4 linked regions of the Homo sapiens genome follow. The protein of the gene in region 2 interacts with the protein of the main gene of each other region in a pairwise test. Each region holds a gene or a part of one and is shown on either strand. Other genes may lie near its edges. The genes, in order: C1QL4, TRHR, FAM241B and SLC41A1.

Evidence for each region.
Region 1: the proteins of TRHR (region 2) and C1QL4 interact in binary tests that used the Homo sapiens proteins (3 or more experiments, as listed by UniProt).
Region 3: the proteins of TRHR (region 2) and FAM241B interact in binary tests that used the Homo sapiens proteins (3 or more experiments, as listed by UniProt).
Region 4: the proteins of TRHR (region 2) and SLC41A1 interact in binary tests that used the Homo sapiens proteins (3 or more experiments, as listed by UniProt).

Annotation. Positions count from the first base shown.
Region 1 is NC_000012.12:49,333,597-49,342,419, reverse strand, and holds the start of C1QL4 (complement C1q-like protein 4 precursor), read left to right. Parts: upstream 1-5,231; 5' UTR 5,232-5,942; coding exon 5,943-6,479; intron 6,480-8,823. UniProt on the Homo sapiens protein: May regulate the number of excitatory synapses that are formed on hippocampus neurons. Has no effect on inhibitory synapses. May inhibit adipocyte differentiation at an early stage of the process.
Region 2 is NC_000008.11:109,116,977-109,122,459, forward strand, and holds the end of TRHR (thyrotropin-releasing hormone receptor), read left to right. Parts: intron 1-2,071; coding exon 2,072-2,479; 3' UTR 2,480-4,589; downstream 4,590-5,483. UniProt on the Homo sapiens protein: Receptor for thyrotropin-releasing hormone (TRH). Upon ligand binding, this G-protein-coupled receptor triggers activation of the phosphatidylinositol (IP3)-calcium-protein kinase C (PKC) pathway.
Region 3 is NC_000010.11:69,626,440-69,633,246, forward strand, and holds the start of FAM241B (protein FAM241B), read left to right. Parts: upstream 1-3,807; 5' UTR 3,808-3,874; exon of another isoform or gene 3,875-4,197; coding exon of another isoform or gene 4,198-4,220; intron 4,221-4,264; exon of another isoform or gene 4,265-4,836; intron 4,837-5,040; coding exon of another isoform or gene 5,041-5,108; intron 5,109-5,269; coding exon of another isoform or gene 5,270-5,304; coding exon 5,305-5,400; intron 5,401-6,350; coding exon 6,351-6,620; 3' UTR 6,621-6,807. UniProt on the Homo sapiens protein: May play a role in lysosome homeostasis.
Region 4 is NC_000001.11:205,810,199-205,818,964, reverse strand, and holds the start of SLC41A1 (solute carrier family 41 member 1), read left to right. Parts: upstream 1-5,766; 5' UTR 5,767-6,157; intron 6,158-7,875; exon of another isoform or gene 7,876-7,877; 5' UTR 7,878-8,523; coding exon 8,524-8,766. UniProt on the Homo sapiens protein: Na(+)/Mg(2+) ion exchanger that acts as a predominant Mg(2+) efflux system at the plasma membrane.

The sequences.
Region 1 (8,823 bases), on a different chromosome or scaffold from region 2:
CGCAGGTCCGCCCTCGCCCTGTCCTGGGCGCCTAGGCTGCAGCCGCACCCCGCCCTCTCCCGGGCCGGGCCCAGGAGCTCCCTGGGCGGCCGGCTGAGTGACGGGCGGCCGGTGATTATGCGGAAGGGGGAGCGGGGTGCGCCGCGGGCGGCAGCGCTGACCCTTCACATTTCCGATCCGCTGGGACCCTCATCCATCCGAAGCTGCTCTTTGTCTGGCCGCCTAATTGCCGGCGGACAGGATGGATGGCGGGACCGACAGCCGCGGAATCCCTAATAAAGGCCGCGGCCGCCGGGGAGGGAGTGCAGGAGGGAGGGGGAGCAAGAGGGAAGGGATGGAAGAAGATGGGAGGAAGCACCGGGCAGCGGTCTCTGGCTCCGAGGCGCTGCGCGCGGCGCTCACTGAAGTCCAGCCCGCCTGGGGTGCTAGTTCGGGGTCCAGGTCCGGGTGCGGTGGGTTGGGGCTCGTTAAGTGTCCTGCTCGTCAGAGAAAAGCTGGGGACCCCAAGCAGAAAGAGCATCCTAGGGCCTTCCTCGCTTAGCCGAGCCCTCGAGACTTGGAGCTTAGCACTACCTCCTGGTCTCGGGGCTCTCATCAGTATGCGCCCCTACCTCAACTTCCCGCACCCCACCCGCCTCCTTTCACCTGTGGGTCTCCCAGACCCGGAGTCAATATCCCAGAGGAGAAATGAGGGGTCTGACAGCTCTCTGTGCAGCCGATCCCCACATTTCATTAACTGGAGGCTGGAGCTGGCAAGCGGTGGAGGCAGAGGGGGGCACAAAGGGAGGTGGAGGAGTCAAAGGCTAGGAGCAGCACCTGGCCAGGGGTGGAGGGCTGCCGAAGTAAGTCAGCAACAGCTCTGACCTGGCAGACACCTTGGAAGCAGTCTTTACCCACTCTCTGAGAAGCCAGGAGCTTGTCTTCAGCCCTGTGGACCCTGGTGCGATACTTTGAACTTAAGGTTGCACTGAGTTTTGGTGCCAGAGGCACTGGCTGATGAGTGGGAGCCCTGGGCCTGGCCGTGATGGCAGAGGCAGGAGGGTAGTCTCTGCAAGGAGGCAAACCATGAGCAGGTTCTTGGGCTGGGACGGTTTTCCCAGCTGCAGTCGGAGAACAGCCGGCTTCAGGCTTCCCTTTTGTCCCTTAAGCAAATTTTCCTTGACTCGCTTCGTTTTCCTTTGCCTTCCTTTTTCTCTGCCCTCTCTTCCTCCATCTGGACGGTTGTTCTCTGAAACTAACTTTGGCCATCCTTTAGCCAACAGTTGAGCACCTGTTGGGCATCATGCTTAACAGTGTCAGGGTGGGGGTTGGGGGATACACGGAGCCAAGACCCAACCCTTTTGGCCTCACATACAAAAGGCTCCCGGAAGCCATTCAAATCTCACTGCCCACTCCTGGCCTGCCTCTCTCACTCTTCCACTGCCTTGGGTGCCATTTGTCTCCTCTAGGGAACTGAGAAGGAAGCCAGGAGGTCATAACTCTAATTCCAGGACTATCCCTTACAGGGTGATAATGGACAAGCCATTTCCCCTTTCTGGGCCCCAGTTTTTTTATCTTTAAAATGGGGACAATAGATCTAACTCTAAAGGGTGCTGTGAGGATGCAACGAGAAGTTGCATGTTAAAGCCCTAAAATACAATAAGGACTCAATAATGTTGTTTCCCTTTCCATGCCGTCCCCTGTCCTCTCACGTGGATTCCCTTGTCTTCATACTAGAGGACTGCTACCAGGCAACCCAGGCTGCTTCCAGATCCATGTGATCTTCAATGTGGGAGTTGAAAGCCAGAGTGTGGGAATGAGTAGGGAGAACCACACTGTGACGGGCCCTGAAGGGGAGGAAGGAGAGAGTGCAAGGAAAAAAAAAAAAGTGTTTCCTTAGATCTTGATAAAATGTCAGGCAGCGAGGAGGTTTCTCTTCTCTTACTGATGAGGAAACTGAGGCACGTTCAAGTGATGCAGGCATATCATGCTGCTGGAGCCTTCCCTCCCAAGGGCCCTCTATTGCTCACCTCTTCACCCCCTTTCTTCCCTTGAGGGGGTCTGGGTCAGTGACAGTAAGTGTGAGAGAAGGAACAAAAAGAGAGAACTTTCAAGGAGCCAGGACCTTTCCACTAGACTTCATAAAATTTTAACATGAAAACTTCCACAGAGTAGAAGGCACATATCACATGCAAATCATATGCTAATCACATGCTAATCCAAAGTCTGGTCCTCAGAACTCTGACACACACCTAGCTATAGCCCTGGGGGGGATTCTGGGGATCCCCCTGGGTTCCAGGACAGGTGAGGGAGGCATTCCATTTAGGGTCAGTTTATGGAGTTAAAATTCATTTTAGGATTGAAGAGGAGTCGAGTATATAAATAGGGGTTAGGGTCAAGGCTAATGCAGAGTCAAGGACAGACTGGTCTGTCTGAAGGCTGCATTAACCTTTAAGTGGGGGAGCCTAGGAAACTGTTAAAGGCTTCCTCTCCTCTCCGCTCCCCCTGCCAACTCTGCCCCCCACTTCCACTGCCCCTTCTTTGTCCTGCAGCACACCCTTCTCTACCTACTTCCCATTCCCAACCATACCACCTCCCTGGGGCTTCCCAGTTTGGCTGCCAGAGGAGTTCTGGGAAAATTGTCCCAGACCCTGGCCTGGGCCCCAGCATTGCCTCGAGCCCAGACACTTGGCTTCTGGCCCAAGGTGCACAGGCTGGCCTTGGCCCCACCCAGGTCCCTTCTTGGCAGAATGTGGCAGCTGCAGGGGAAGCAATAAGGACCTGGTGAGCTGGCAGCTTCATTCCAGAGTGTGGGAAAAGAGCAACAGAACATGAATAAATTCATGGAGCTGGCCCCTCAGCTCCCCGTGAGCCAAGCCGGCTCCCCCGACCACACAGATCCGCTGCTGCCTGCAGCCCTGCTGGTCACCACATCTCACAGCCTGGGCTGGGGATGGGAGGAGAGGGGAAGCTCTAGAGAGAAGAGGACTGGGACCTGAAAGGGGCTGAGGTGAGGGACTTAAAAAGGGGACCTTGGTGAGTAGAATGAGTGGAGTGAGGAGTGTGGCTGGGCAGAGGGGGTCTCTGGTGAGTGGAGGGAGGGAAAAGGGAGGGAGAGGAGTCAGGACCTGGGGTGGATGGGGCCTGAGGATCAGGCAGGGGAGGCTGGTGTGAGCCTGGGCCTGCTCTCTGATCCATCCATCATCCAGCCTGGGGGAGCAGATCCGGAATTAGACATGCAGAGGGCTGACACGGCCCTCAGCCCCCCGAGGAAGACAAATGGCGACAAAGACCTTGAATAAAATTTGTATTTATGGTTGGAGGAGGAGGCCCCTCCCCCACTGACTGCCAATCCTTTCTCTCCCACTCCTTGCAGACATGTAGGGGCCTCCCCCAACCCCCAACACAGGCCCAGCCTTAGGAACCTCTCTCTCCCAGCATCATTATGAGGCGGGGGTCGGGGGTGCAAGGAAGGAGTACAGAAAACAAGAGAGGAGGAAATCACTCTCCATCCAATAATCATGCCCTGGTGTGCCCTGTGCCCTCCATCTTACACAATGTTCTCCCATACATGATAGTCCTGGCTTATCCTGGTCTCTAAGAGGCCTTTGCAGCTGCTCACCTCCAGGGTCTCCAAATGCCCCCACTTTTTACCAGTCCTAGAACCTGTTTTCCTAGCCTCTGGGGTCCCTGTGAGCAAGACATTTTCCCCAGAAGGCCCAGGCCCTAAGAGAGGATGCAGCCAGTAGCTTTTTCTCTGGACTCTGATCTAGCAATGCCTGTGTCTAGCAATGTCTTGGCCGCTCGGAAAGACAGATACAGTCCCCTCTTACAGGAGGGTGCCTAGCACCTAATCTGCATTTTACTTACATTAATTTGCATGGCCAACTTCAACCCCCACCCAAATACCCATTATGTGGGATCCAACTTCTCTGGGTTTCATCTAACAACAAACTCTTGAAGAAGGAGGAAGGGGCAGAGACTCCTGGGACTGGATAAGTCTGGGACCAGGGCAGGGGTGGCATTGGGCTGAGCTGGGCAGGGCAAATGAGAAGACAGCTGTCTTCTGACTTCCTCTCTGTCCAGTAGAGTCCTTCATTCTCAGTCCCAAGGTAGGAAAAATGGCATTTGTGGGCTCCAAATTGAGGGACTAGGAGGAAGACAAATACAAATACCTCCCTTCAAACAGCCCTCACATATACATACACAAAGACAACACACAATCCACAATCGCACTCACCCAGGGACACACAGGGCCAGGATCCCATGGCCACCTCCACACTTTGGAGCACACTGTCACAATGCACAGGCCCAGAGCCTAGCACTGCTGGCAGAGCCGCCCTGCCCCCGCATCTTCCCCACAGTTGATATGTCACATTGGAGTCCAAACACGGACCTGGGTGTCTCTCTGCAGCGCGCCATTTACATTTCTCTCTCGATCTGTCAACCTGTCCCGGCTCTGTCTCTCTTCCTCTGTCTCTGTCTCTCCCTCTCCCCCTCTGGGGCTGTCAGTCCGTCTCTTTTCGAAGCTTTGTCTCTGTCTCTGCATCTCTATCTAGCTTTCCTTCTCTTTGATTTCTGTCGCTCCTTCTCTGCTTTCTTGTCGGTTTCTTGCTTGCTCCCCCGGGCTGATCTGTTCTCTTATTTTCTCTCTCTCTCTCTCTCTCTCTCTCTCTCCACACAAACACACACACACACACACACACACACACACACACACACACTCCGCTCCGCGCCCCAATACTGAGGGGTGGGGGTAGGGTTGGCTAGAGATTTGCCTTTTCCAGTTCAGGCCAACTAGTATCAGTTGAATCCTTTACCATGTTATTCGGTCACGGGCGCTGAGGTGCGTGGGGTGGTGAATTTCTATCTTTTCTAGCCCTTCTTATTTTGTTTTCTGTTTGTTTGTGAGGTCCCTCCCCCTCATTTTAGCTCGGGAATCTACCCCTGTCTTCTCTGCGTGTTTGTATCTTGACCCCTCTTTATCCCATCGCTGTTTTGGGTTTCCTCTGGCCTCTGAGAATGCCAAACTCCGGGTAAAGGGTAAAAGTAAAGATACAGCGGGGGCCGCGAAACCCTGAAGAACCCGCTCAGAGCCGGGAAGGAACCTAGGGGCAGTGGGGGAGTGGAGGGGAGGCGGGGAGGACGTGGGTGGGGGCCGCTGCCTGCCCCGCCCCCGCACTTCCCACTCTGGGCACCAGGGGTCGCTCCGCCTCTGGCCGCTTATAGTGGCTCCCGCCGCGCGGCGCCTCATACCACCCGCGCCCGGGAGGGAGGGGAGGAAGGTTAGGGAGGCGGAGAGGGACCGCGCCCGCAGGAGAGAGGCGCGGGCCAGGGCTCTAGCAGGGACTGGGGCCGCGGCAGGGGTAGCAAGGTGAGTCGGTGCTTGCCAAGAGGCAGAGCGCAAAACCTACTAGGAGATCGCGCCCGGTGAGCAGCACCCGCAGCTCAGAGCCCGGGACGTCCGGAGCGCGGGGAGCAGTCCCCTCTCCATCAGGGAGTGGTCTATCTGGGCAGTCTGGGACCCAGGCACCGCGCCATCCCTGAGAGAGCAGCAGTCTGGAGAGCAGGCATCTCAGATCCCTAAGAAACCAGCCGTCCGAGAAGCCGCGGATCTCAGGTGCCCAGGATCGTTAGGACTGAACGGGAGGGTACTAGAGGACCACTGGCTCTGGACCGTCGGGAGCTGCCCCTGACGTAACCCACGAGGGGCCTCCCCTTGACGGACGGCTTGGGGAGCGGCACCGCCGCGGCTGGAGCCCGCAGAGGCAGGGTAAGGGGAGCGGGGGGCAGCCGTCGGGGGAGTGCAGACCCAGGCCCAAGGCGGGTCACCGCCTCCTGGCCCGCGGAGAGCCCCGGCCCCGGCAGCCATTGCGCCCAAGAGTGAGGAAGATTTGCTGGCCCTGGCAGCGTCGCGGCTGAGCCGCCGCAAGAGGGTGGCGGGCGCGGCCGTCGGAGTGGCCATGGTGCTGCTGCTGCTGGTGGCCATCCCGCTGCTGGTGCACAGCTCCCGCGGGCCAGCGCACTACGAGATGCTGGGTCGCTGCCGCATGGTGTGCGACCCGCATGGGCCCCGTGGCCCTGGTCCCGACGGCGCGCCTGCTTCCGTGCCCCCCTTCCCGCCAGGCGCCAAGGGAGAGGTGGGCCGGCGCGGGAAAGCAGGCCTGCGGGGGCCCCCTGGACCACCAGGTCCAAGAGGGCCCCCAGGAGAACCCGGCAGGCCAGGCCCCCCGGGCCCTCCCGGTCCAGGTCCGGGCGGGGTGGCGCCCGCTGCCGGCTACGTGCCTCGCATTGCTTTCTACGCGGGCCTGCGGCGGCCCCACGAGGGTTACGAGGTGCTGCGCTTCGACGACGTGGTGACCAACGTGGGCAACGCCTACGAGGCAGCCAGCGGCAAGTTTACTTGCCCCATGCCAGGCGTCTACTTCTTCGCTTACCACGTGCTCATGCGCGGCGGCGACGGCACCAGCATGTGGGCCGACCTCATGAAGAACGGACAGGTGAGATGCCCCTCTCCCCAACCCAGCTCAGACTGGTCGCTCTCTAGATCTCCCTGCACTCATCCCACAACCTGAGATTATTCCCCGAAACAGCGTCACTGAATCCAGGAACGCGAGGCTGCCAAGAACGATAGATGACTTCATTTACCCACAGAGGAAATTGGGGGCCAGAGAAGGAAAACCTTCTGCCTAGGGCCTCACGGAGTGTAGGAATGGTGTTAGAATTAGAACTCAGGACTTAAACCTGAGTGTCTCTGCAGCTGTGACCTCACATTGCAACTATGGGCAACACCAGATGTCTTTGGTGTCTCGCCCTGCCAACTCGCTTCTTTTCTCGTCCTGTCTTGGGCTATCCTTTCTTCTGCGGCAGCCCCCCTGGCCTTTGGGTCTCTCAGCCTTGCATTGGACCAGCTAACTGGAGTCTAGGCTCCTTCGAATTAGAATGGAATCCATGTCTCAGGCAATAGGAAGTCAGCAGCTGTTCTCATGTTGAGGGCATTCGGGTTGGATGTTTGAGGAAAAGGTATAAAAGGAAGAAAACATTTGCCTGCTCACTTCACCTGCCGATCAGCTGTTCTGTTGCTCACCCCAGGGCTGGGGGCCTAGAACGGCCTTGCCCTCAGCAGAGTCTGTGGCTTGGCAGCTCAAGGGCCAGCCAGGTGGCTGGAATGAATGGATTTGGGGGAGGAAAGAGGCAAGGGACAGGTAGAATAGCCTTGGGCCCTGGCCTGGTCTTGTAGGCCCCACACCCTCCCTAGCAATCTCTCAGTATCCAGGTTCCACAGTTCCCTGCCCTTGTGGGCAGTTGGAGTCACTGTTGCCTCTGTTTTCGGGGAATAGCCCCAAGGACTAAGCTCTAGCACCAAAATTTCACACATAGTGGGAACTAGAGGCCGCAGGTGTGGGGTAGGTGGGAGAAGGTGCCAGAGCTGCACAGGCTGCAGAGGGAGGTTGGGGCTGAGTGGTGACCTCTGGATGTCCAGCATGAAGGGGGTGGTGGCGACCCAGGAGCTTCAGGCCTGCAGGAGCCTGGTACCGCGGCAGCATCTACCTGCCCCGAGACCTGCTTTGGGATCTCATCCCAGCCGGGCTGCCCCAGGAACCCGGGGAAAGGGAGTGAGTGTGCGTCCTCATGGAGTGAAAGAATATGTATGTGTGTCAGGGAGTGTGTGTGAGTGCGGAGTGCGATGTGAGAGTAGAGCGGTGTCTATCTGTATATGACATCGAGTAGGTGTGCTTGGTCCATGCAGGGTATCTGGGAGGAGGTGGAGGGGGCCAGTGTGTAACTAATTCGTGCGGGTTTCAGAGGGGGAGGGGACTGCGCAGCTCCCACTCTGTATTCTTCAGTGCGGGCGCTGCGGCCCTGGGGACGGTAAATAGTGATTAGAATAATGATGAATAATTAATGAGTTAATAACCAGCCCCTGTGGGACTCTCTAGAAGAGGGGGGCTGAAGGCCCGAAGCGACCGCCATGAGCCCGGAGGGGAGGAAGTGCTCCCTGTTCTGGCAGAAGACGACCCCCCACGCCTGGGCACCAGTGGGTGCTTGGTCGGGAAATCCGCGCCCACAGGCGAGAGCGCAACAGTGCACCTTATCATGGCCCGCACCCTATGCACACGCACAGGCACACCTATGCCCCACCACTGGGGAAGCCAACCCTCCATGAGGACTGACAGGAGGTCCCAGCCGGTTCAGAATTTTAGAAATTATCCTATAGGCAAAATTTTATTTTATTTTATTTATTTTTTGAGACAGTTTCGCTCTTGTTGCCGAGGCTGGAGTGCAATGGCGCTATCTCGGCTCACGGCAACCTCTGCCTCCTGGGTTCAAGCGATTCTCCGACCTCGGCCTCCCGGGTAGCTGGGATTACAGGCATGTACCACCACGCCCAGCTAATTTTGTATTTTTAGTAGAGACGGGGTTTCTCCATGTTAGTCAGGCCGGTCTCGAACTCCCGATCTCAGATGATCTGCCGGCCTCGGCCTCCCAAAGTGCTGGGATTACAGGTATGAGCCACCGCGCCTGGCCGACAAATTTTATTTTTAAAATGAGAATAGTAATTTGAAAATGCATTAAAAATAATTTAAGAATGGAAACCACTGAGCCAGGCGCGGTGGCTCACGCCTGTAATCTCAGCACTTTGAGAGGCTGAGGTGGGTGGATCACCTGAGATCAGGAGTTCGAGACCAGCCTGGCCAACACAGTGAAACCCCGTCCCTACTAAAAATAGAAAAAATTAGCTGGGCGTGGTAGTAGGCGTCTGTAATCCCAGCTACTAGGGAGGCTGAGGCAGGAGAATCGCTTGAACCCGGGAGGTTGCAGTAAGCCGAGATCGTGCCATTG
Region 2 (5,483 bases):
CCAACACAGTGAAAGTTGCTCCCTTCACTGACATTCCGTGAAAAGAGGCAGGTAGGTATTACTTGTGGATTCAACATTTTACCTGACAGTTGTAGGGAAAGATAAAGGTAGTTGAAATTCAACCTTTCTTCTGAAATTTAGCAGCAGTAAGTGTTGTTGGGTTTATAATTGAAGAATTTAAGTGTTTGGGTGATCATAATGGAAATAACACAGTAGAAATGTTATCGAAAATGCAAGAAACATTCATGGAAAGGGCAAAGTATATAGGAAGGAGCATGACCTTTGTCTTAAGTAGACAGATTTGAATCACAGCTCTGTCACTTACTACTCATGTGTCTGTAGACAAATCATATAAATTACCTAAACCTCAATTTCTTCACATGCAAAATGAAAAGAATACTAGCTTACTCATGGAATTACTATAAGTATTAAATAAGATAATGTTTATATGGCATTTTTCAGATTACTTGGGCCATCTTAAAGGACTAAAATGTGATGGTATAGATCTAATTGTAAATTAAACTAGGTATTTCAATGTAGGATGCTTTACCCCTGACAGGGAGTGGGAGAATGTTGACAAGTGTGAAGCAGTGATCTGATTTCAGAGTGCCTGGAGTACCAAGCAGAGAATAAAGGCAAGGGTGTGGTTCATAATGACGAAGATCATGGTGATGATGACAATGAAGATGATAATCACTACATCTCCTTCCAAAGCTTAGAACATTTATCACTTTGATTTCCTATGACTAATTATTTACTTATATATATTTTTTAAAGTCTACTTAGGAAAAATCATGTTTCAGTTAACCCCTTTGCTAAGTAGACCCTCTTTGGCTCTAAAAGAAGTCAGAATCTCTGGAATGTCTTAGTTGGTATTATATGAACCAGTGTGAAATCACATATTCTCACTGAACAATTTTTCTACTCCTAGTGGTAAGATACGTAGCCTTAATATCCTACATACATTGAGTCAGAATGAAGCTCAGTGAACAGTGAGCAATCTGGGATATTGACCTCATCCTACCTATTGTCTTACTTCCTGTGCATTGCTTATACTTAGGAGTGGCTTCAGCATTAGGTAAAATTCCAGCATTTGCTTTCTCTCTCTTTCACTTCCCTTTAACCTGAAAGAGTGCAAAAGCTTTGAATTCAAGCTCACTTGGACAGTAATCCCAGCCCTGAGACTCTACAGCTTCCACCAAAGTACTTAACAGCCTCTGTACCTGTTTTCTAATTTGAAAAAGTAGTGGGTACAATACCTATTTTAGGAGGTTTAAAACTTTTTAAACATGGTAACAAATAAACACCTTGGATAGTGTCTGGCACATAGCAGTCACTAAACATTCAATAAACACTGACTTTTTTGCATTATTCTTTTCATGCACTGTTACCTCATTTGATTTAGGAGGGCAATGTTGGCTCCATTTTACAGATGAGCTATAAGATAGGTTAAGATAATTTCTTAGGCCACACATAGGGTAAGTAAGGAAAGGATTTGACCCTAAGTCTCCTAATGCTTGTCACAGACACTTTTGGTGCCCTGTGCTAACATTCTCTTACAAGACTCTGATTTCAGCCATAGCTGCAGTAGATGGTTCCTGCAGTGGGAAATATCCCACTTCAGGCATCCACTGTACCATTTGTCTCTCCTCTTCTTGGCCTCAAGTGTCTCTCTAAAGGCCCTAGGAGTTTTCAGGCAAGAGAATCCTGGAAGTACACAGGAGTTAAAGTCCTTAACAATATCCTTTAATGAATGGACGCTGGCATTCATTCTCTTACTTCTGACAGATAATTCTCAATTGCATTACTTGAGCCAGAGTTGGCTATAGGGGGAGCTATCTCAATAACACACTGCTTTGGCTTTTCCTACTTTGGCTTTTCCTTGTCTATAGCATTCTAATTGATAACCCTTAATCCTGCTTCCTGGGATCACCTCCCCAATAAATGACCTGCACCTAACTCCTTGTCTCAGACTACATTTTGGGAACTAAAGGTTTGGGTGAGAGAAGAAAGGGGGTTTTGTTTTGTTTTCATTTGTGTTTGTACAGCATTTCTCTCTATTTCTCCCTAGGTCACCAAGATGCTGGCAGTGGTTGTAATTCTGTTTGCCCTTTTATGGATGCCCTACAGGACTCTAGTGGTTGTCAACTCATTTCTCTCCAGTCCTTTCCAAGAAAATTGGTTTTTGCTCTTTTGCAGAATTTGCATTTATCTCAACAGTGCCATCAACCCGGTGATTTACAATCTCATGTCCCAGAAATTCCGTGCAGCCTTCAGAAAGCTCTGCAACTGCAAGCAGAAGCCAACAGAGAAACCTGCTAACTACAGTGTGGCCCTAAATTACAGCGTCATCAAGGAGTCAGACCATTTCAGCACAGAGCTTGATGATATCACTGTCACTGACACTTACCTGTCTGCCACAAAAGTGTCTTTTGATGACACCTGCTTGGCTTCTGAGGTATCCTTTAGCCAAAGTTGATTCATGAATTAGAAGAAAATGGATGACAAAGAAAATGAGAATCTGTGCAGTCATCAACAAAAGGGAGAACATGGCCAATAGTCATATGTGAAGACAGAGCAGATCAGTCTTTGTCAATGCTCTAACAAATTCTGGCCCTAGATACTTTAACCCATGAGGATGATTCAGACTTTCCTTCTTACAAACTAATATCACTAAAAATGGAGCAGATCTGTGAAATAGCTAAATGATGGAAACTTAAAGTTTAGCCCTTTTCATTTAACTTAAGAAATTCACTATATTTTCTGGACTTATAGAGTTTCAATAAAATCTAGACATCAATTTACATTATTCATAGTAACCTTATCAAATGTCACTTTTCAACTTCCCTAATTTATTTATACATTCGATAATTTGACAACATGCAGATTTTTAAATGTTTGCATTTAGTATTCATTTTAACATAGTACAGGGCTAGTTCATGAATATCTGAAATTAAAGGGAAAAATATTACAGAAACATTTTATTTATTGAGTAAAAATAAGATTTTAGACATACATGTTAACTGTATTTTAAAAGTTGCCATAATGTTTATAAAATTCTGAGATGATTTTTATATCTTAGAAGGTAGATAATCATCACTCAACTTTAATGTAAAATAAACCTCAAAATATCTGAAATTATTAATTAAGGAGAAATGTAGATTTTAAGATAAATCCAACTCTTATCAACTCTTCCAGCCTCCCACATGATGGGTGGAAAAAGGCAAAAGCCCAGATTAAGTAACTGTGAAGATACAAACTAACATACAATTAAATTTGAAAAGTATAGTCAAGACAAAGCAAGTATTTATAATTAGATTTTGCTTCTTCTCTGACGCTTTTAAGCAATAAAATCTTTTTGAACATTCTTGTTTATAAACTACTCAGCCATGTCAAGCAAATCATTCAAGCAAAATCTAGCTGAAAAGTCTGAAACATTCTTAAAAGCTTTGTTGTTATTCTAAGTCAGCCAAAATCCTGGTATCCCTCTTCCAGATAAAGAGCTCCCACTGAGAATTGTAGTCTATGGATTTTACCTTGACTGCAATTGTCTTTCCTTCCTATCTGCTTGTTGTTTGTAGGTTCTTTTTTTGTTTTTCTCAAATGCTAGTGATATTTTGTTTACAGATTCTAAAAGCAATGCAAAATTCTGTTGGCTTTATTTTCAGCAGAGTTAAAACTGATTTCATCATATTATCAGTATGTCATCTTTATATTTATGACTGACATCTGCTATTCCAGTGTTTATTGGAGACTTGTGAATGAATCTGTCCAGGACACTTGTCAGTTCCTACCTGAATCTCTTACCTATTGAGATTTGGCCAACCAGAATCTCCGAGGGCAAAAATTGCCCTTGGTGATGGTTCAGTAGTCATTGATTTTTAATGAGTAGATCAAAAAAGTACCCATACCTTTACATGCCCGTAGGCTGTCATTTTCCCTCTCCAGCCTATATCCCTATTTTATGGACTTTTCTAGAACCTAATCGCTAATGATAATTATGCCTCCCCATCTTCTTAATGAAGAATATACCATTCTTCTGAAACTTGTTTTTACGTGCTGTTTCATGGAGACTATGCTATCCAGAACCTCATTCTAGAGTGCGCTTTTTTTTTTTTGAAAATTGGCCTTATCTACTCCAGCAAGACATTTTTATCCTGTTACTATAACAGTAAATGAATGCAAGCAAATATTTGCAGGAAATACCCTAAAACCCTACCTGCATGACAGTAAGCAATCTATGTTAACTGACTTTTCATTCTGGTATAAATATTAATCTTGGCATCATATAAATAGAGCACCAGAGTGACCCAACCCCAAATCACACAAGCACATGTGTGTTTATAAACACATACCCACATGTTCATAAATTGGTGAAAAAGGGGATTGGAATATACGAGATTTTTTCATTACAGAAAGGACCTAATATCATTGAGCATCGACTATGTCTCAGGTATGCTGGTAGGTAGTCAATCAACATTATCTTCATCACAATTTCACTACAGCTGTAATTTCTCTGATGATTAGACCAGTATTCCTGTGACCTAATTCCTAATTAATAAAAAGTTATGGATTTTGCAGAATGATTATATCAGGTGTTAAAAAATACAATTAGTTTAACATGATATACACAGAATACAAAGATGCTCTTCTTATCTTTGGAAATTTAATGTATGGGCTGAATTCTTTCACTTTAATTTTTAAAAAGTTATTTCTCAAAAATCTGTTAGTTTTAGACCACATGGGAAATTCATAAGAACTCAGTTCATAGTGTTTTAACTCTAAAGCAAATGCCATTTTAAAATTAAATGTTCCTATATAATGTCCAATAGATATTTGAATTTACACAGAAGAGATATAACTTTTTAAAATATTCTTTATCACACTATACTCAATCATAAAATATTTCCACAAATAATCAAAACTTAATATACCACCAAATGAGAAATAAAGAGCTAGTTTAAAATTTGCTGGTGAAATCAAGTAATGTTATTAAGAGCCCTCCTTAATAAAAATTCCCTGTGTTCTTTTGTTACTTCCAATTTCATTAATTGCTGAGGGTCTTTGGTTAGATATCATACCTGAGGTAATTGAGTAAAGGGCACAGATCATGAATAAAATGAACAAACATAAATTCCCTCTTAGGACCTAAGGGCTGTGAGTATATTTCTAGACCTTAACATACAAGGCAAATATTCTAAATGCTGAAGAAAAATAAGACAAGTCCAAACTTTACAGTCATTCTTAAACAAATTGAATGTACAGAACAATACACCCTGATAATATACCAAAATTAATGGCTGATTTGGCTAAACAATTAGCAATGTCAAAGGAAAAGCTACAGCCATAAAACTTAGTTTAGTACAACTAAGTCTTGATGGATATTTGAAGTGTTTTATTTTCAGAAGACTATGTTGGAATAATAAGAACAACATGTCTTAGTAAAAGTTGGGTCAACATAGTTTTGGTTGGCTCTTCAAGAA
Region 3 (6,807 bases), on a different chromosome or scaffold from region 2:
AAAATAGAAACAGAAGACTCAGTGAAGCAGCGCTGGTTCTTTGAAAAGATCAGTCAATAAGATTGATAAACCTCTAGCAAAAGTGAAAGACACAAGATAGAAGACACAAGTACCAATATCCGGAATGACACAGGGATATCAGTGCCTGCCCTGTAGCCATGTGACTCGTTCTTCACAATGGAATGTGAGGGAAGTAATATGTGCTACACCTACAATACTTTTCTTTAAAAGAAATCACTAGCCCTCATTTCTTCTGTCTCACCTTTCCATGAGCTGCATATGGCGAAGAAGTTGGTGAGGCAGTTTTGACGACGCAAATAAGGGTGGCATCCTAGGGTGTAGGGGAGCAATAAGCTAGGAAGAGTGGATGTCCTTGGCTGGCCTTGTGAAGCAGAGCTGCCCATCTACTTGATTGAGTCACTGTATATTTTTTTTGTTCCAGCAGCATAGCCTGTACTCAAGCTAATATATTACACCTAGGTGGGTTTATGTCTTAGGGGACTTACATACTTACATATAACCAAGATATTGTGGGGCCACTCCAGTCTTCTGACTATGTAAGGTGTTTTCTGAGGCCTCCATCAATCCTCTGGTCCCCCATCATCTGTCCATGGATGAGGGCCATCACTGAACCACCCTTCATACCTGTCTACCTGACCCTTTCAAGTCCAGCAATTTTCCCACTACTACTACTACTACTACTACTACTACTACTACTACTACTACTTACTACTCCCTTGTCATTGCTGGAGCACAAGAATCCTTCCACCACACCTCAGACACAATGGACCCAAGGATTTCCACAAGGCCATATAAGGCCCTACCTGTCATACTCACTATCTGGCCATTCCCTTTCCCAAGCCTCATGCCCACCTTTGAGATCCAGCACACAACACCTATGCTCCCATCATTTCCTCCTTTCCCAGTGTTTTCTCTGAAGAGGCCCCTGTCATACTGTCTTCCATGGCCACAGGCCTAAGGAGGCACCAACAGTGGGCACTGGCAAGCTAGTGCTGCCTTTCTCCCACACCATTCTCTGAGTAATAAACACAGGCATAGTGTCTGCCAGAGTAGGGGAAAGAGACAGGGGGAAATAGCAGGAGAAAGAGATAGATAGATTAATATATTTAAAATGACATCACCATTATCATCATGCCATTCTCTTTTGAGGCAGAAACAGTTGTTCCCACCTGCAGAGTCAGAGAACAGGCCAGGACACCTGACTTAAAAATTATGACCTCTGCTATGAACAGAAAACCAAAAGCACATTTTTATTGACCACATGTTGGGGTTAAGGCATGACCCAATGCCCAATCTTGTGCTGATGGCACTGGGGAAGGTGGGGGCACAATTGTAAAGAGGCTGCAGAGCTGAGATGAACTCAGGGGAGTCTGTTTGGTGGATGCAAAAGCCTGGAATGCAGAGCCCGGGGACCTGCCTTCATTTGAACGCTGGCTCTGTCACTGACCTTGGGCTCATCATCTACCTTGTCTCTGAGCCTCAATTTCACCTTGGTAAAAGAGGAATAATAACACCTACTCTTTCTATTTCATAATCCAAAAAAGAATGAAGTGGTCTCTGGGAAAACACTTTGGAAGTAAGGACTCTGCACATATAGGGGTTATTATTATTATTACATGAAACAATCACGTTTGTGGATGAAGGGATTTAGATTGGGTGGAGCTGGCCTTCCAGCAGATATTCAGGCCCAAGCAAAGCAGGCCTTTGGGTGATCTACTTCAGGGAAAGCAAAGAGGCCAGGTGGGCAGAGCTGAGGGAAGGAGTTGCTGACAGTGTGCTGGGGCTAGAGTTGGAGGGTTGTCAAAGCCTTGCCAATGAGTTGGGGCTTGTTGGAGCAGACAGTAGGGACCATTGCAGGTTCTTGAGCAGGAGAGACACCTGAAGAAGGTGGAGAGATAGCAAAAGTGGTATGTTGCCTCCTTAGGCTATTTTAGTTGGTAATAATAGGCTATTTCTAAGTCCAGTCAAGCACTATCACTTCCCACCCCAAAGCTGTTCTTGACTTTTCTGTAGGGACTTGCTTCTTCCTCTCGACTCTTACGGTTCTCTCCAGCTGGAGTGTATCTCTCTGGCAGCAGTTATACCAGCTCAAATCTTCCTGAAAACATCCATGATTTTCTGCCTGTATCCCCTGGTTTCCCAGCCCACAGAGGTTACCTCCCTCTTGGGGCTCCTGAGTTCCGTGACCTACTTATGGGGTTCTGTTCATGGAAGGCAGTGTTTCTCGGCCCTAGCTGCTCATTAGAAGACTGGTTTTTAAAATGTCTCCATGCACAGATTGTAACCCAGATCAACGACATTGTGATCTCTGGGGTGGAACCTAGGTATTGGGATGGTTTCTAAACATTCCAGGTAATTCCAATGTGCACATTGCGATTTGGGATCACAGGCCACCTCTGACAATCGGGCATCCTGCCTTGTGATTACTGCTTTCATGCGTGCACTTGGCATACCTGGAACACACTGGGGTGTGGGGAGAAAGCACTAGGATTTTGGTTTATATTTACTTTACATCCTATGCTTTTAAAATGTGCATGCTTTACAATCGACTTGATAGTAGAAGAGGTAATGATCATAACAGTCAGCAGCCGTTGAGCATGTACTGCAGCCAGGCTCTCATCCAAGCACTTGACACGAAAGTGCCAGAAAGCAGTCACACCAACATTCAAACACAGGATGGCTCCAGCAGCCACCTTTTATCCATCATGCCAATCTGTTCTCACAGTACACATGTGTAATTTAGAAACAAACAAAAATAGTAACATATAAATAAGATACAGATACCAGAGCGACCCGTGAAACATTTTTTGCTGATAAGGTTTCATGATCAAATAATCAGACTATGGTGGCCGACTATGAGTCCTCCAGGCCAGGTCTAAATCTCTCTCTTAGTTTTGTTCCTTCTGCCCAGCAGCTAGCAGAATCTGGGTTCTAATAAATGCTCAACAAATATCTGCCACTCCCACAAACATTTATTAAATGATAATCATAGCTAACGTTTATCAACATTGCCAATGTGCCAGAGACATCATACTTAATCTTCACAGAAGTCCTGTAAGGCTATGATTACACCTGCTTTGTGACACTGAGCAGCTAAGTAACTTGCTAGAGTCCAGAACCTGAACCCAGACTGTGGGACTGCACAGCTCATTCTCCCCCACTGGTGAGCAGGTCCACAGGGAGCAGCTTATGAAGGTGGTGGGGGAGAAGTGGATTTTAAAACATCAGGAAGGAGGCAGAGGTGGATCATTCACTCCCTGCAGGTGGTTCCTTCTGCCAAGAGTGACCTTCTCTATCCTTACCTACCCTCCTGCCCCAGCTCAAACGCATCTTCTCCTGGAAGCCTACAGAGGGTTCTGCCCCGTTCCTGCCTCATCTTCCCCACTGAACTTGGAACTCCTAGAGGGCAGGGTTGGGTCCTACTCAAGGGGCATCCACGGAGCTGGGTCAGCAAACATAACACTGGTCATCTGAGCCTGCGCCCGCCCTTCCTCCCAGGCCAGGGCGCCCCCACCCCCTGGGTTTTTCCTCCGTGGACGCCGCTTCCTTTTCCTTCTTTTCTCCCTCCTCCTTCTTCTCCTTCTTTTCCACGTGTCTTCTCCTCCCATCCTCTTTTCTCTCCATCCCCACCTCCCACTCCTTCCCACGCCCCATCTCCCCGACCCCCAGCACCCCGCGCCGCCCCCAACCCTGGGCCGGGCAGGTGCAATTCCTCAGGCGGCCTACAGAGGGCGATGTGCGCCGCCACTGGGCCGCGCCCCTCCGGCGCGCGCTTCCTGTGAGGTCAGGTGGGAGGAAACCGCCTGGAGCCGCCGGGAGTGGACGCCGCCGAGGCCCGGAGTCGCGCCTGCAGGTGAGTCGCCGCGCCGGGGAGGGAGCGCATCCCTCGCTGCAGCCCGGGCCGGGACTTGGAGCCGGTGTCGGGCTCCAGAGGCTGGGGCTGGCGGCCGGGGCAGCGTCCCTCCCGCCCCCGGCCCGGAATGTCAGGTGCGCCGCGGGCCGGGCGCGCGGGTGGCCCACCGGGCGGGGGCGCGATGACAAAGCACAAAGGGACTGCGCGCGACCACCATCCGCTCGGCCTGCGCCAGGGCCAGCGGGCTTCAGGAGGGGGACGCGCCTGTCCCGGGCTCCAGGCTACGGGCAAGACCACAGGGCTCCTGACCTTTTTCGGCATACATGTCACCAGTGCTATCTGGAATGTAGGTGGACACTGAGGCTCATCTCCTGAGAATGAATGGCCTTTACCCAGACTCAAGGGGAGGCGTGGAGGGGCCCCGCAGTCCAGGGGTCCGCGGAGTGGAGCCTTTCGAGGGCCACCGCAGCAACCCCCTCCCATATTTTGGGAAGGCTGGGCCCTGCGCCCGTTAGCCAAGGTTGGACTGGTGTTCCCTGCGAAGTGAGGGACAGGTGAGGGGCGTGCCCTCTGCAGCAAAGGTGTGCTCTTCCGAGGCGCATGATGGCTAGGATGGTCTGCCGCTACCAGGCAGTGGTTGTAAAGTAACCCCGAAGTGACCCTCATCTCCCTGGGTGTTCCTGGGGAAGGCCCAGGTGGTGACATTGACTCCCTGGGGGAGCAACACACTCGACCCATTTTTTAGTGGAAGGGAATTGGAACCCCACTGGGGATGCTGGTGCCCTGGACTCCCAGTTTAGTACCCAGGGAGGGCCCTAGAACCAGAGCTTCTGGCCTCGTGTTCCTTCTCTGCTGTCCGTAGGTGTGATCCCGGGCAGGCCACTTAAGTCTCCCTGTGCCTCCGCCTGTGCAATGGCCGCGCTAGTACCCTCCTCGGGGGAGTGTTGTGAGGCTTGAGTGAGGTGAGCCTTGCAGGATGGGCCTTCCACGGGGCGTGGGCCACAGCAGAGGCTCTAGTCCCAGTTGTGCTGTTGGCAGTGTAGTGATTGGCAGTAAAACTTCCTTTGCCAAGGATCTTTTTGATAGTTTTCCTGGTGGACTCAATGTCTGAAATCTTTTTGCCTGGCAAACAACTTGCCTTTATTTCTCCCCTTTTTGTTAATCAGACACAGCATCTACTCAGCGTGGGTCACCTCTGTGAACATCACTGACTGCAAGCCTCCCTCAATTTCTGGTAAATTTTTTCCTTCAAGCTTTTTGAGGTCAGGGGGAAAATCCTCCACAGATCTTCACGAGTCTGGTCCCAGATCACTAACAGCTAAAGGTTTTGTGGTGGGGAGAACTTCTGTGCCACTTGGCTTCCATTAGCCTGCCCACCCTGACCACACAATGCAGGTGCAGCCCATCAGGGACCCACAGCGCCTGGGAGGATGGTGCGGATCTTGGCCAATGGGGAAATCGTGCAGGATGACGACCCCCGAGTGAGGACCACTACCCAGCCACCAAGAGGTAGCATTCCTCGACAGGTAGGTACTCATTTCCTGTGGAGTGGGACAGATGGCCTCCTGTGTACTGGCTACTCCTAGCTTCCAGAAGTCTCTCTTGCTGGTCACTAACCTTTTCTAGCCTGAAGCCCTCTTTGCAGAGAGCTGGGGAAGATGCAGTGGCTTATTGTCTACCTCCCCAGATCTCCTTTCTCCAGGCGCCTCCCCAGACTTCACAGCCAAGAGCTCTCTCTCCTTTAACTTGGTTAGCAAACCTCACTGGAGCTAGCGTCTTTCTTTTAAGAGTGGGTTGGATGACAGAAGCTGGAGAGGAAGTGGAGGAGATGAGCCCTGGGCACAGAATAATCATTTTAAAGGGGTGGCTGGGCGCGGTGGCTCACACCTGTAATCCCAGCACTTTGGGAGGCTGAGGTGGGCGGATCAGGAGGCCAGGAGTTTGAGACCAGCCTGACCAACATGATGAAACCCCATCTCTACTAAAAATACAAAATTAGCCAGGTGTGGTGGTGCATGCCTGTAATCCCAGCTACTCAGGAGGCTGAGGCAGGAGAATCGCTTGAACCTGGGAGGCGGAGGTTGCAGTGAGCTGAGATCGCGCCATTGCACTCCAGCCTGGGTGACAGAGCGAGACTCCGTCTCAAAAAAAAAAAAAAAAAAAAAAAGAAAGGAGTGATGATGAGTATTAAAAATGCTGGCCCTAGAGCCATGCCCTGTAGTCCAACCTGCCTCAACCACTTCCTCTCTCCTCTGTCCTGGGCCTGATGTGAGGAATATAGACTGGCATGTTCTGTGCTCTGAGAGCTTGTGACTTGGTTGTTGGGATTCTTATGGGTGGCATGGGGGATTGCTGAGAAAGGAGGGTGTGACCCTGGGTGGCTGTAGGAAGGGCAGGATGCAGCCTAGAGAGGTTGATTCCTGGCTGGTGCGTCAACCCAATGATTCATTCATCTCTCTCTGTCTTCACATTCCAGAGCTTCTTCAACAGGGGCCATGGTGCTCCCCCAGGGGGTCCTGGCCCCCGCCAGCAGCAGGCAGGTGCCAGGCTGGGTGCTGCTCAGTCCCCCTTCAATGACCTCAACCGGCAGCTGGTGAACATGGGCTTTCCGCAGTGGCATCTTGGCAACCATGCTGTGGAGCCGGTGACCTCCATCCTGCTCCTCTTCCTGCTCATGATGCTTGGTGTTCGTGGCCTCCTCCTGGTTGGCCTTGTCTACCTGGTGTCCCACCTGAGTCAGCGGTGACCTCTGAGGGCTGATAGGGGTGGGTTTGTTGAGAGGGACTTGCTGGGCCTTGGTGTGAGAGCAGGCATATTTGGAGGGGATCTGGTGGTGCCTTGAAGGTATGATCAGAGAGGGGACCACAGGTGTGTGTTTCCCCTTTGTGTTAAGCGTGAGGCAGAGGGAGACGTTAGTCCAGCATTTCCAAAGT
Region 4 (8,766 bases), on a different chromosome or scaffold from region 2:
TCCTGGCCCAGCACCAGACGTTTGGAAACAGAATTTCCAGGAAAGAGGCCTGGAAATCTATATTTTAAAAGAAGTTCCCAACAGGTGATTCCTATGACCAGGCCAGTTTAGGAAACCCTGGTCTAGAGGATAATCCTAGAGCAGTAGGCAGTAAACACAGAGGGCAGTTTGAAACTAGGTAATCTGGTTTGCAAGATACAGTCTTTTTGCATCCTGGCTCTTGCAAGATAAAGTTTGCTCATCTTTGGCTTGTGACCCACTGTGGGGTTGCTGCCCCTATTAGCTCCTACCTGCATCTATGTAAGAGACTGTCCATCATTAACCCTTTCCAGGTAGGCATGCCCTCACACTCTGGGAAGTCTAAAATTTCACGTGAGGCCCAGAAAAAGCCTGAGCTGCCCGTTCCAAGTGCCTAATCCCTGTTTATTGGCTGTTTCTCTTTGGTGAGATCTTAACAGTCCTACTGCGTGCAGGGAATGTTCCAAATGCTATATTATCCTAATCCTCTCATCATCTGTGAAGGCTAATGCAACTCCATCTTGGATGCTAATCCACCATGTTGACTTCTGATTAACTCCAGTTCTGGAAATGCCTCTAAGATTTCTATTTTATCTACTATTCCTTGGTAAGACCATATACTTATCATAAATCCTGCTCTTAGGTTAAAACAACTGACCATAAATCCTGCCCTTAGGGAACTTCACATAGCATTCTCGCCTTTCCCTACAATTGTCCTACACATTCCTTCCCTGTAAGGTATAGGTATTCCTTCCTTATAAGGTATTCAAGCCCTGGTCTTACTGCTGTCCGGGATATAGACAGGGCTTCTGTTCGCAAGTCCCTATTAAATGCTTCTTTCAAGAAACCAGATTTGTCAGCCTCTTTGGCCTCTGAGCTTTCTCAGACTTTGGGGGTAGGTTTGCATAGAACTGCTCACCATGGAACATATATTGCAGAAAGGGAATTATGTCTCCATTTGATAGACATGGCCCAAGGTCATGTGCCTAATGAATTGCTGAGCCATTCATGGATTCAAATCCATGTGATTACAATGCTGTGGCATATTCCACTCTGCAGCACTGCCTCTCAAAGATTACTTTTCTATCCCCAGTTATAGTTCACCAGACCATTTTGTTTGCTGTCAAGGCTTCCCAGCTATACTCAGTAAATTCAGAGCTGCAGCTCCAAATACCTGGAACCATCCTGCCTAAGGGAATCCCAGGGTGGGTATCCAGGGGGCTTTGGGGAAAGGGAGCTCAGTTATAGAGAAGCAAAGGGAATGATGACAGTGCTGAGCACAGATGGCCACACTTCCCTATCCCACCCCCATCACTACATCCTCCTAAAACTGAATGAAGCCGGAAGGGGATGTCACCTCAGCTCTGGGCAGCAGGAAAGAAGTTGACCTCTGGGAGGGAGGGAGCAGCGGAGGGGTCACAGCAAGGGGAAAAATGGGAGGGGGCACCCTCCCCCACAGAACAAAAGATAGAAAAGTTTCCAGCCACGTCAGGCTAGTCTTACAACTAGCCATGCTGGTTAGGGGGTCCAGGATCTATGGGGCTCTGGAATTTTATGATGTCTCAAGATGAGTATTCAGGTAGTCTATGGAGAAGCCATTGGTAGACAGTACTTGGCCCAGAAGGAAGGCCATGGGGCTAAGAGAACCTCAGGATAGAGGCTAAATTAACCACATATTAGGACAAGTGCCAAGCAAGACTGAAGAATGCTGCCCCACAGAGGACCTTCCCACACAGGCTCCTCCACAGGCCCCTGCCTGTGGAGTGATCAACAATTCCTTTTGCCACAACACTCTTTCCCACCCCACACCCAACATATGCTCATATTCTAAATGAAAACACTGTGCTTGCTATACAAATGATGTTTCATGACAAGTCACCCAGCCTCTCTCCAACTAGATGGCGTCCCCAAGCTCAGTTTATATAAAAATTTGGGGTGCTACTACTAGCTTCTAGTTAAATGCCACATTATGTTCTGAAAGACATGAGGAGGGGATGCTGTGAGTTTGTTAGGGTGGTGCAAGGGGAAATTTCTGTCTCCCAGAGTAACAGGAATCAGTGAGACTCTTGACCAGAGCTGGTCAAGGATGCTGGAGAGAAACACAGCAAGAGAAAAACGCTGTAGAATGCAACAGGCCTATGAAAACAGTGCATGGAGAAGAGGCTGATTCGGTGGTCTTCCATATTCAGGATGGACATTACAGGCCATGAGGAAGTTAAAGCTGATTTTAAAAAAAGAGTTGCCCAATGCAGGTTAGGAATAAGACCCTCCAACCAAAGTTTCAGGGAACCTCCTTTGGAGAAAGAAATGTGTTTCTAGGTGTGGAAGAGCTCTCTTGGCTAACAAGCTCAAAGACTGGGCATGTCTTGAGGCAAGAGAGAGTCCACATGACCTTTGGAGGTTCTTGTCATACAAAGGTCCACAGTGATGCTCAGAGACCCTCACTATCTTTTTGATACCCCCAACTGCGTCTCTCCTTCTGAAGTATCTGGCTGGCCTGCTACTTGCTGGTAGTTCCTGTCTTTTCATCTGTGACCTCCGCTCCCTACATCTGTGCTCATCATTTCACAGACTGTAGCTATTTCTGCTCTTTCAGTAGAGAAGGGCCAGGATGTCTTCCTCTTCCTAAGGTCACAGCTGGCTAAGCCAGAGGAAATCTGCTTCCCCCAGGTCCTCTTGGTGTTTGACTCTAGGGATCAGCACAATACAGAGCAAAGTACCTACATCAGCTTTATCCACCTCATCCATCATTCATTCAACATATTTATTAAGTACCTACTATGTGCCAGGAGCTGGGTTTACACTAGTGATCAAAATAGATATAGAGATTATATTCTTGTTCCAGTGGCCCTGACACTTCAGAAGACACCAAAACCAAGGGCTTTTGTATTTATTTACTCATAGAAATATTTGCAATACCTATAACCAACAAAGGACTCGTATCTGATATTCATAAAGAACTCCTACAAAGTGGTAAGACAGGGCTGGGCTCAGTGGTTCACACCTATAATCCCAGCACTTTGGGAGGCCAAGGCGGGCGGATCACTTGAGGTCAGGAGTTAGAGACCAGCCTGGCCAACATGGTGAAACGCTGTCTCTATCAAAAATACAAAAATTAGCCTGTCATGGTGGCATGTGCCTGTAGTCCCAGCTACTCAGGAGACTGAGGCAGGAGAATCACTTGAACCCAAGAGGTTCCAGCCTAGGCAACAGAGCAAGATACCATCTCAAAAAAAAAAAAAAAAAGTAGTAAGACAGAAGGAATAGAATAATAGAAAATGGACATGATACTTGAACAGATATCCAAGGGTCAAATAAATGCATGGAAAGGTGGTCAACTTCATTGGTTATCAGGATAAAGCAAATTTAAACTACAATACCACTATACACCCACCAGAATGGCTAAATTTTTTAATTTTTCTAGATTGACAATATCAAGTGTTAATGAGAATATAGAGCAACTGGAACACTAAGACGCTGCTGGCAGGAGTGTAAATTAATATGAGCACTTTGAAAAATTGTTTAGTCGCATTTGCTAAAGCTAAAAATATGCATATCCTTTTATGACCCAGTAATTCTATTCCTAGGTATATATCTAGTATAAATATGAACGTAAGTGTACCAAAGGACATGAACAAAAACGTTATCGCAGCCTTATTCATAATAACCCCAAAGTAGGAACAACCAAAATGTCCGTCAACAGAATAACAGATAAATTGTGGTATATTTATTTAATGGCATACCGTACGGCAATGAAAACAAATAAGCTACTGCTACCACAATGTTTTGGATGAGTTTCATAAACATAGTATTGAGTGAGAGAAGCCAGACACAAAATAATACCTACTGAATGGTTCCATGTATATAAAGTTCAGAAGTAAGCAAAACTAACCTGTAGTGTTAGATAAACGTTACTTTTGAGAAGGAGTGTGGCATAGTCACCAGGAGCGGATAGAAGGAGGGTATCTGGGATGCCAATAATGATCTCGTTCTAGATCTGGATGGTGGTCATATGGGGGTGTTCACTGTGTCATCATTTGTTGACCTGTACACTTAGGTTTCGTGTTCCTTTCCTAAATGCCTGGTATATTTCAATTAAAAAAATACACACAGGAGAGGGGAACAGTTTTCGAGTAAGTAAAAACACGGAAGGTAGAAAGGAAATAGGAGAGAGATCAAGATTTTATACACAGGTAGCTGAGCTGTGGCCAGATTAAATGGGGTAGTGGAGGGGAGGGAACTGTTGAATAGAACAGGGCAGAAGTTGCCTCCAGCCCAACCAAAGTTCCTCCAGATACATCAGCCTTAATTCCCCACCCAACCCCACACCCCGTATTCACAAACCTCATCTTTCTGGACAAGTCCCAGCATTTCCTAGACTAGCAGCTACTTCTCCTGGCAGAAAAACCCAGTATTTGAGGCCAAAACTGGGGTCTGAGACACTGATATTTTGCTCTAGTAGGTCCTGTGAGTCTGCAGGCCCTTGATGCAAATGCTCCAGAGCTGATCTGGAATCATCCTGGGGGTACTGGTTTGGGGTGGGTGAGGGGAACAGGGTTTGGTATGTGTATTTGTCATCCTTATCAAAAGGAATGACCTGCTCAGGTTGCTGTGTGTGCTCTTGTGAGCACGTGCCCAAAGCTTCATACACAGCACTGCGATCTCTTCTCCCCAGGCACATCTCCGCTCCAAACCCTATTCAGGGGTCTAGAGCCATGTTCGAATGCCCCCGGGCTACTTTCAGGGAGGAAAAGGACAGGAAGGAACCGTTGGTCACAGGTTCCACTGACAAGAGGGGAAAACTTGGGAGTGGGGGTTCCTTTATGAGGGAGGTCACACCCCCTGCACAAAAACATCCCAAAGAGAACTGGCATTGAGCTTGTGTTGGAGAGGTGGAGATACCCCAGGGAGGAAGTGGCGAAAGGTGAGCATGGGAACACCCCTCTTTGATCCCACAAGGTGCGTCAGGGAAAGTTGGATTTCATTTAGTCCGGGATGGTGACATCTCTCCGCACGCTGCCACCAGGCTCAGTGGGTCAGAGGAAGTGAGGCTCCCCTCCTCTCCGACCTCAGGTGATGCGTGTGCGACCCCAGCCATGGGTCTGACCTCCTTTCGCTCCCGCCCGCCAGTCTCCACCCCTTTCAAGGCCGGGACTTTTTTAAGGCCGGATTCGTCAGGGGTGAGCCATTTGCTCAAGGAACGCGGAATCTGGAGGGAGCCTAAAGTGACGAGCCGGCGGGAGAAGAGCAAGGTAGGGACTGTTCTGTCCGGGTACCAAGTGGGAGGAGGGAGCACGCGGCTGGCTGCTTGAGCCCGGGGGTCAGAGGTGGCTGGCTGGCTGGCTCCACAGGGACGTTTACCGGTCTTCCCGAAGGCCAGAGGCTCCAAGGAAACATCCAGAGGCAGGAGAGGACGCGCACTGTCGCACACGCCTCTCAAAGTCTGCTGGGGCTCCGACGCGGCGCAGCGGGCCCGGGGGCGGTAGCACCACGCAGCGAGCCCGGGCAGCGGGCCCCTCGGACCCCGGGCCGATGGGCGCTGGGACCCGCGCGCTCCAGGCGCATGGAGCCGGCTCCCGGTTCCCGTCACTCCTCCTACTGCGTTTCCCCGGCGCCCCGCCTCCTGGGCACGAAGCGAAGGAAGGGGGCCGGGCCGAGGTTGATCCCGCCCCCTCCCCAGTCCCTGATTGGCTGCTGCTGTTGTCCATCCGAGAATCTATTTTTGATGGAGCGGGGGGGGTGCCACCCAGTCTGCCCCAGATCACGTTTGCCACCGGCAGCCAACCAGTTGGGCCCGAGTCCGCGGGCAAGAAGCGATTGGGGGCGCGTGAGCTCGGCTCCCCGGTCCCCCGTCCGGGTGCCCCCCCGCCGGGCCCGAAGCGATATATCCTGCCCTCCCCGGCCACCTCCCCCGCGTGGAAGCGGAGCGGCGGCCTCGCTGTAACGCAGAAGCGAAATGTAGCGAGCCGGGTGTCGCGGCTGGACGCTCGCCTTGGCTGGGGGTGTGGGGGGGCACGCCGGGGGCCAAGGAGGACTGTCGAGGAGGAGTGATGAGAAGAGGGGGTGCCCTGCACCCCCCGAGACCACGGGCCACGCTGCCACTTGCCAGGCGCCCCCCTTCCTCCCAGGCGAGGGGCAGGTCAGTCCTGTGGGGTCCTGGGGCGGGGAGGGGGTGGTGGAGGGCGGCAGTCCTGGCGCGCAGCGCATTTGCTGAATCTGAGTGGTGGAGAGACTGAGGAGGCCACCCAGTTACTTTCTCTCCCTCCTCGGGGTTGGGGATACTAAAATGGGTCTTTTTTGTCCCCGCCTGGGAGGAGGGGATAGGGCGTCCTGGTTCACTTTTGCTTCTTTCGTCCCAGGGCCTTAGGCCTGTCTGAAGTCTCTTTACAGGGGGAGTGGTGAGGGAGGACTGGCTTCCCCTCCTGGGAGCCCCCTCTCAGGTTCAGTGGCCTGCCAGGAACACAGGAGGGAGGCGGGGGTGTCAGCTTTTAGCGGACTCAGAAACTTTTCTGGCATAGGGGCACTGGACTCAGAGGTTTCCTCCTGGATCTCTGGTGAGGGAGTTTGAAAGAACCACAGTACTGTGTTTAAGGAGATTGGAAAAGGGAGTCCTGGTGGGTGACTGAATTGATAGAGGAAACAGTTCTCCTGGGCCAGTTCCTGGGGTTTGATACCTCCTTTCCTAAACTGAACTTGACTAATTGTGTGTGTTTGGAATACTTAAGGACCTGTTCCTCTTACCTGGTGGAACTCTCTTTAAATTTATTTTTTACGAATAAGAGCTCTTCTGGTGAAATGGAATAGGATGGGAGTCCATCAGGAATTAGGAAGCCTGGGGATTCCTTTAGGCAGAGAAGTGGAGCCATTACAGCTAAAGAGATGCATTTGGAGCAAGTGCATATTGGCTTACGGTGCTTTGGTTTTTGTTTTGGGTTTTTTTTATTGCTACTTTTGTTTTTTTGTTTTTGTTTCTAAGAATTCCACTATATCCAACTCTCAGTAACCCTGGGGAACAGGAGGAGCCTAATTAACTGAAATGCGTGGGTAATAAGCAATCGTTTTATGCTCTGTCCCTTCTAACTGAGATAACTCCCTTGTCCTATCTGACAAGCTCACAGGGCCAAGAGCAGGGGGAGACGGGGAGAGACAGAGGCCTGGATCCGAGTCAGCTGTCTGAGCTCTTTGTAACACTGTTGACTCTCAAGGGCAGGAGTGGGTAGGCCTCTGGCTCTTGGCCTTGGTCTGGCAGGCTTGCCCCACTGCCCAGGGAGTCCTCCTAGCTTTGTTTTGTTTTCTCAGAAGCTAGAACGATCTGGGGTCTGGGGGACTTCACTCAGCAATCAGTTTCTCCCTATTTCTTTGCCCTGTGTGGCTGTCTTTCTGTTGCTGTCTTGTGATGATAAGCAGTCACTTTATACAGGGGTGGCTGTGTGGCAGGGAGTTTGTGACTGAATTTGTAACTGAACCCCACTTAAATAATGCAGGGTTCTTAATGGGCATTCAAGAAGGGGTCTTGCTGAGGACACACCTACCCACCCCCAGTTGCTGAGGAAACAGTGCAGAGGGCTTCTGCACAGCATCTTCCCAATCCCAGGCTGGTCACATCTCATTGCTGGTGACCACGGTGGTGATCCCTCAGGAGGGTTGCTGGTGGGGAGGATGGCGGGGATAGCTCCTGCTGAGCCTCCAGATGGAGCAGTGCAGGACTGAGTAATTTTTGCGGAAAAAGGGAGGCAAATAGCAAACTCTATAGCTATATGATGAACTCCTAACTTCCTTGGGGGGAAATTCTCCCAGTACAAGCTGTCCTTTGCTATAGTGTAATGTTCTTTTTCTTTTCTTTCTCCTTCCCACATAAGGTGTTCCACACTGATTCTCGTGACTTTAAGGACCAGGGATTTGAAGAGGTATTAGCTCTTCCCAGGAAGGGAGGAAGTTTCTGGAAGAGAAGGGAAAGACGGCAGACGCTGCGCTGGGACCAGCAGAGCCTGAGGAGCTGTGGGAAGCTGACAGAGCCCAGCCAAAGGAGCGGGAAGGAGCCGCAGCCCCAGGCTGGCACTGTGTTCTGAAAGATTTGAACTCAAGCTGCTTTTTACGGAAGAGGGGCCACTTCAGAGGGCACCCCAGAATTTGGTTGAGCTCTTCTACTCTGGATGCCCCCTGCTCTGAGGAGCCTGCCACTGAGAACCAAAGAAGATAAGAGGACAGATACTTTTTCTTCAAGCACAGAGCTGGTGGGTTGGAGTCAGGCATCTGCACCCCTAGTGGCTGTCTGGTGAGGAATTTCTTGTTTCTTCCCAGCTTGCGGCTTCAGTGCTTGATGGGGCTGCCTGTTGGTGGATCAGTTTTTGCAGTGCCTGGTAGGAGTGGAGAGCCGTGGGAAGAGGTCCTGCGGCGCCCAAGCCTGGGTTCACCCCAAGACTAAGTTCTTTCCCAAGTTAGAGAAGAAGAGAGAAAGCAAAAAGAAGAGAGGAAAGTTCTCCCTTCCCCTCCTCCGTGCCTGTCATGTCCTCTAAGCCAGAGCCGAAGGACGTCCACCAACTGAACGGGACTGGCCCTTCTGCCTCTCCCTGCTCTTCAGATGGCCCAGGGAGAGAGCCCTTGGCTGGGACCTCAGAGTTCCTGGGGCCTGATGGGGCTGGGGTAGAGGTGGTGATTGAGTCTCGGGCCAACGCCAAGGGGGTTCGGGAGGAGGACGCCCTGCTGGAGAACGGGAGCCAGAGCAACGAAAGTGACGACGTCAGCACA